2 linked regions of the Homo sapiens genome follow. The protein of the gene in region 2 interacts with the protein of the main gene of each other region in a biochemical or structural test. Each region holds a gene or a part of one and is shown on either strand. Other genes may lie near its edges.

Region 1 (3,600 bases), on a different chromosome or scaffold from region 2:
AGGGAAACTCTTTCTCAAAAAAGAAAAAAAAAAAAAGAGAACTTTCATAGTGTCCAGCAATTTCACTACTGGGTTTATATCCAAAGGAAAGGACATCAGTGTATCGAAGTGATATCTGCACTCATATGACTGTTCCAGCACTGTTCACAGTAGCCAAGATGTGGAGTCAACCTACCTGCCCATCAGTGGGTGAATGGATAGAGAACTGTGGTACACACACACAGTGGAGACTACTCATCCATAGAAACAATAACATCCTGTCATTTGCAGCCACATGGATGGAACTGGAGGTCATTACAAAGATTCCCATTTCTCACCCACATGCAGGAGATAAAAGGTGGATCTCATGAAGGTGGAGAATACAATGGTGGACACCAGAGGCCAGGAAGGGAAGGGTGGAGGGTAACAAAAAAAAGAATATAGATGTATTTATTTATTTAGAAACAGAGTCTCTCTCTGTCTCCCAGGCTGCAGTGCAGTGGCATGATCTCGGCTCAGTGCAACCTCTGCCTCCTGGGTTTAAGTGCTTCTCCTGCCTCAGCCTCCCAAGTAGCTAGGACTACAGGTGCATGCCAGCATGCTCGGCTAATTTTTCTTGTCTGTTTAGTAAAGATGAATTTCCCACATGTTGGCCAGGGTGATCTCGAGTTCCTGATCTTAAATGATCCACCTTCCTTGGCCTCTCAAAGCGCCGAGATTACAACCGTGAACCACCACACCCAGCATATAAAGGTATTTATGACCACTAGATTTTACTTTTAAAAATGGTAAAGGTGGTAAATTATATAGTTACATTTAACCTCAATAAATATTTTTGAAAATGAAAAGAAAAGGGTGTAGGGGTTGCTGGTGATGATATCTCTCTGTGTGGGTGAGAGGCCATGATGGGCTTCTGGGAAATGGATAAGATTGAGGGGCTGAGGGAACCTCTGATCTCCCCAAACTAAGCCCAGTCTCCCCTTCTCTGGGTCTGTCCTGACCGCTTTCTCCATCTGCCTGGGTGCCTGGAGCCCTGATCGGAGGCCTCCATGCAGGCCATGAAGGAGGGTTTGGAGGTGCCCTGTCTGCCATCCTGCGCCCTGACTCCGCCCTCACACCTGCTGTGTCTTCTCTCTGCATCTGTCCATGCTTTTCTCCATCATCAGCAGGAAGCTCCTTAGCTAAGGATTTAGGATCATAGGACATGAGAGAGATATGGGCTTTTCTCACCTGTGACAGAAACAAGCAGTGGGTCACTCGGGTCTGACCACTCGTAGGGAGAGTGACGGAAAGAGCCGAAGCATCTGTAGGTCCCTCCGTGGGTGGCAGGGCCCAGAGGGAAATCTGCCTGGAATGTTCTGTTGACCTTGCGCACTGCAGGGAGCCTACGTTCATGGGCTCCCCCCTCCCTGGATAGATGGTACATGTCATAGGAGCTCCGGGAGCTACAGGACAAGGTCACGCTCTCTCCTGCCTGAACCTTGGGGCCCGGCTGGGCTGAGAGAGAAGGTTTCTCATATGGACCTGGAAGGAGAAGAGGCAGTTTCCTCAGGGAGGTTCTTCCTTGTCATAGCTCCCCTCATACCTGAGCTGAGAACTCACTCCCCTGCTCTATGACCTAATGCTCTCTCTCTCTCTCTCACCCTCCACCCCATCTCTCTTCATATCTGTTTCCTCCTTCTACCTTTTCTGTCTCTCTAGGTCTATGACCTCACTTCCCCACCCTGAGGTATGTTTTCCCTTTTTGGATTGTTTTATTCTCTCTGACCCTCCTTGGATTGGTTGACTTGATCTTCCTTTTTCTTTAATTTTGAGTCTCTCACTTTCTGTCTTGTTCATAACTTTCTGCACATTTCTATCTATTTATCTATTTTGTGTCTATCTACAAATTATCTATCATCTATATTTATGTATCACTTATCTATCTCTCTATCAATTGTCTGTCTGTCTATCTATCCATCAATCATCTATTATCTATATATGTATCATCTATCTCTCTCTCTATTACCTCTCTGTCTGCCTCTCTGTCTCTATTTATGTATCATCTATGTATATATCTATGTGTCTATCATCATCATCGTCATCTCTATGTATCATCTATCAGTCATCATCTATGTATCTATAACCAATCCATTATCTATCATCTACCTATTTATCATCTATCTACGTCTATCTATCCATCTATCATCTCTCTCTCTCCGTCTCCTTGTCTTTCTCTGCCTCTCAGTCTCTCTAGTTCTATTTGGAATCTCTGCAATCCATCCCCACATATTTATCTTTCTCTGTCTTTGTGTCCCTCCCTCAGGGTTCTGATTTTGGGGCTTTTCTCTCCTCCTTTCCATCATTCTCTCCATTCTGCCCTCTTTTCTTTCTTTTTATGTGTCTGTGAATCTCTTAATCTCCTTCTTCTGGCTCATTTTGTGTGTGTTTATGTCTTTGCTTTTTGGTGTCCCTGATTTTTCTCTGTGTCTCTCAGCGATCCTATCATATGTGGGATTATTTGGAATATGAGCCTCAGAATCCAGTCTGGGGACCCCAAGTTCACACAGCATACAGGGGTTGGTGTTCAGGGGCCATGATATCCTGGGATGATTACTCTCCATTGCATGGAAGGCAGAGGTGTCAGAATAAACACGGCATCTGTAGGTGGCACAAGGCCTGAGGCCACAGGGCCCAACTCAGGTCAGAAATATGGGTGTCCTTGGGTTCTTCTGGTAGGAACACTTTGTGGAGGTAAAACAGAAATGAAACTTCTAACCTGTGCCAGGTCTCTGAGCAAAGTCAGCATGGAAGGACACCTCTCTCTGGGACATGTCTGTCTGTCTGAGTGTCTCCTTTACCTCTTTCTCTCTTTTCTACCTCCCTGTATGGCCCCTGTGTCTGTCCTCTGTTATGACACCTGTTCTGTACTTATGTCTCCTGTTTCTCTGTCTCTGTTGGTACAGACCTCACCAAGTCACTCTCTTTCCATAAGAATCCCACACTTATCTTCCTCATGACCACCTGGGGGTTCCAAGTCCTGGATCATTCACTCTGTGTCCCAGTGACAATGAGAACAATGTCTAGACACTCTCACCTGTGACCACGATGTCCAGGGGATCACTGGGAGCTGACAACTGATAGGGGGTGTGAGTAACAGAACCGTAGCATCTGTAGGTCCCTGCAAGGGCAAGCATCATGGGACCGATGGAGAAATTGGCCTTGGAGACCCCATCATGGATCTGTCCAACGAGGCGTGAGGGGTCCTTAGAGATCCCCTCTTTGTGCAGAAAGAAGTGCTCAAACATGATATCTGACCAACATTGCAGGATGACTCTCTCTCCTGATTTCACCAGGGGACCTGGGTGGGCCAGGAGGGAAGGTTTTCTGTGGTTTCCTAGAAAGAGAAGTTGTGAGTTTAGAAGGCATCTCTCTTTATCATCCCATCCATGGCACCTGGAATGAGTGAGGGTTCCCCTCCCCGTGTCTGTCTCTCTCCTCCCTCTCTGCATCTCCGTGTCTTTTCTGTGCCCATATCCCCTGGTGCAGGTGCCTCCATCTGTCTTCCTCCCTCTTCTCTGTCCCTCTGTCTCCAGTAGCCCCTGACTCCCTTGCCACTGTGAAGACAGCCTCATCTCTTGG
Region 2 (3,600 bases):
TACAAGTTGAACACAGTTCAAATCTGCTGAAATCTTCATGACATGCAAGTTCATGTCTGACTTTTAAAAAGTCTTGATTTCAAGAAGAGGCCATGAAATCCCTTGGAAATAGACTATTGAGCGCCTCTTTCAAGTGGTATAAAAATCTTCAAGATCACCTCAGGAGTTGAGTTAAGTTTCTATGCGCATGTTCAATGTCATCAGCCTTGAGGATCACTTGATTTCTCCTGGGTTAATGGGTTACCTACAAAGGAAGGAGAAAATATAGTCAACATTTCATAACATACCGATAATCTTAAAACTAAACACAATTAAAAATTAATAGATAACTCAAAATGCTGGTGTTTGCTATATCAAATGCATTACTTAATTTTAAAGGACTAACAGATGCAGGTATTTCCATCATATAAAAATATACTTTTTTTCTCATTATCATCTCACAATATTTTTAAAGCCATTTGCACAATTATCCAAGTGAATATAACTGTGACTAGAATTATCCCAACTGGTGACAACAATATCCCTCTCACACCCAGAGAGTGATTCTGGAATCCTTGTTTTTTTGCACAGGCTTGGTAGCCATAACCCAAATATCACAAACACATCATACTAGGCCTCAGTGAAGAAAGACCTTTGTCCCCAGCAACACAGTCACATCATATTCTCAAAAAGCCCTTGGGGATTGGTTCCATAAAGTTCATTTTTGAAATAGTTTAAAAATTGAGGGTTTATTTGAGTCAATTATATTTGAAAAATTATATTTGAAAAATTATATTTGAAAAAAATCTGTTTATGGGGGACAAAAATATCTGAGGAAAGAAACAATAAGGAATAGAAAAATGTTGTACCAAATGTTAAAGGTGCCCCAAAATTTTCATAAAATTGATTGGAATATACTATTAATGCTATTTTAAGTATCACTAAAAACATTCATACTAACTTCACACCTACTAAAGTCCAAAGACCATTTGTGTACAGGAAAAAAGAATAATAAACAGATAGAATACCTGATACATATATACATACATATCTACGTATGCATAGATACAGAGGAAAACACACAGGGAGAGGGAGAAGAAGAGAGAGGGAGAAGGAGGGGAGAGGAAAAGAGATTTTGAGAGAGAGAGAGGATAGAGGGAGAAAGAGGGGAGAGGAGAAGAGATTACCAACACAGCAGAAATATCTCGATTTCTGCTGTGTTAATAAATTTCTAATTCTATTCTAATATCAGGCAGGGTATTTAGAGAGTTACCTAACAGTTCTTTTCTAGGAATGGCTAAAACAAAAAGTGATTTTAAAAAATTATTGTCAAAATTTTGATTTTATTCTATTAAGTGACATTGTTACTTGTCCTTTGAAAAACATTACAAAAGTCTGTTTGGTTTCATTGTTTTCTGATCAATTATGTAAAAAATGAATATATTAAACAAAATAATAAGCTAGTTCTAGACTTTGCTATGGCTAGTCTCAAATTATACTACCAAAGGGAGATGGTACAAAAGGCAAAAAAGTGTTTTCATGCATGGAGACAGTCATCTCATTTCTGTCTCAGTGGTCTGCTAGCACTCCCAAGGAAGGAGTTCTTTGCCTGCATATTTGAAGTGTTTTACTCCCATGCACAGAACCATGGAAGAAGTTGTGCCAAGGATGGAGGGTTGGAAACACATGAAGAGCCTACTGAATCTTTGAGATTCTGGGAGCAGGAGATATCTTAGGCATAGCATTGATCTCATTATCAATTATCAACTATCAATCTGCCTGCCATTCAGGAGTCATCATATACAATTTCTGTGAAGGGCTCCCAAATTGAGTATGAATGTGGACCATATTTTCAAAACTAATGCTGAAAAGACAAGAAAAGAGAGGGGAAGCTATATGTGTGTGTGTAAAAGATGGAGAGAGGAAATTGAGAGAGAAAGAGAGAGAGAGGAAATTGAGAGAGAATAAATGGTTTAGCCTCTGCTGTTGCTCAGTGTAGCCAAATGGAGAAACATGGCGGAAATGAACTGCATAAATGTGGTGCCATGACTCTATGATAGCAAGTGACACGTCCTCTTGATCCACTTCAAGCTCAGGTTCTAAGTAATCTATTAGTGAGTATAATAGATGCATTCCTATATCTTCATTTCAAGCTAAATATTTGACTCTACTAGTTTATATAAAGTTGAGAAATGATCCTCTCAGCTATTTACATATTAAAACTTTGCTCTCATATAATTTTGAAAATAGACATCTAAATTAAAAGTATAATACAAAAGGCTTATAAAACTAAAACAATTTTTTTCTCCATTTCTGTAGAGAAAAAACATAGATATATACACACACATAAACATACAAACACATATAAATAAGGATATAACCCATATCCTCAAAAACATCATAAACATCCATTTTCATGATGATATCTTTCTATCAGCTAACATAATTGCTAGAGAAACAAAACTTAAACATGACTAAAAGAAGTAATTGTCTAAACACACATGGATTACAGCATAATTAAAGCAACCTATTCTCACACCTAAGTTTTACACAATATTCCTGGATTACTAATTTTAAAAATATCCTAGCATATGAGATGAAGAATATGGTATAAATCATTTCTAATATTAGATGAAAGTATACAATCTAATACTTGATTTTTTTTTTTTGATTATTTGATTTTGACCAAGAGGACACATGGTGATTCGGCATCAAGAGCTCTGTATTTAGGCCAGAATGGCAGTATTGCCATGAAGATCAAGTATTATAATGTTATTTAACACCTAGCTTTGTCAACCCTGACCAACTATAAAAATAAAAGGTCTGGATTTTAGGAGGGATTTTTTTGCTTTTGAATGTATAAATCTTTAACAAGAGAGCCACTAAAAGTAGAATGAAAGAATCACACTATTAAATTTAGCCTAAAGCTTCCTCCTTACATATTTTAAGTTCAGCCTAAAGGTTTCTCTGTACATCATAAACTGTAACCTAAATGGAGGTGTAAACACAATGTAGCCCACTCTTACACCAATCACCGAGTTTTGGCCAATCAAAGGTGGCCAACTGTTCAAACTGTGTTCAAATGAGGCAGATGCTGAGCTGTAACCAATCTGGCTGTTTCTATACCTCACTTCCGTTTTCTCTATGTCACTTTCCTTTTTCCGTCTATAAATCTTCCACAACGTGTCTGTGCTGGAGTCTCTGAGCCTACTCTTGCTTGGGAGACTGCATGATTCACAAATTGTTCTTTGCTCAATTTAATTCGGCTAAAGTTTTTCTTTGAACAATACTAACAGACATTCATGAAAGTTTAGAGAACTGCATTGAAGGAATTAAAGCCTAACTAATGACTCATCCTTTTCAACACAAAATAAGGATGAACATGTATAAATATCTACCAGCACCCTCCCTGACAACCTCAGGGTTTGCACTAAACAAGATGGGAAAACCAAAGGTTTAAAAATGTATAGGAAAATGATTCTAAATATAGGTACATTATCACCAGTTGAAAAAGTTTACTATGCAAGGTCCAAATACTATTTGCAAATGAAATTATTACCTAAAATTAAACAAAAATATCAACCTTTTATGATTTGTATGCTTATTTTAAATAAATATGAG

The links. The genes of interacting proteins can lie anywhere in the genome.
Region 1: the proteins of TAFA2 (region 2) and KIR3DL1 form a complex in vitro, tested with the Homo sapiens proteins (one study listed by BioGRID).

Annotation. Positions count from the first base shown.
Region 1 is NC_000019.10:54,819,468-54,823,067, reverse strand, and holds part of KIR3DL1 (killer cell immunoglobulin-like receptor 3DL1 isoform 1 precursor), read right to left. Parts: intron 3,356-3,600; coding exon 3,056-3,355; intron 1,504-3,055; coding exon 1,210-1,503; intron 1-1,209. UniProt on the Homo sapiens protein: Receptor on natural killer (NK) cells for HLA Bw4 allele. Inhibits the activity of NK cells thus preventing cell lysis.
Region 2 is NC_000012.12:61,710,174-61,713,773, forward strand, and holds part of TAFA2 (chemokine-like protein TAFA-2 precursor), read right to left. Parts: intron 245-3,600; coding exon 233-244; 3' UTR 1-232. UniProt on the Homo sapiens protein: Has a role as neurotrophic factor involved in neuronal survival and neurobiological functions.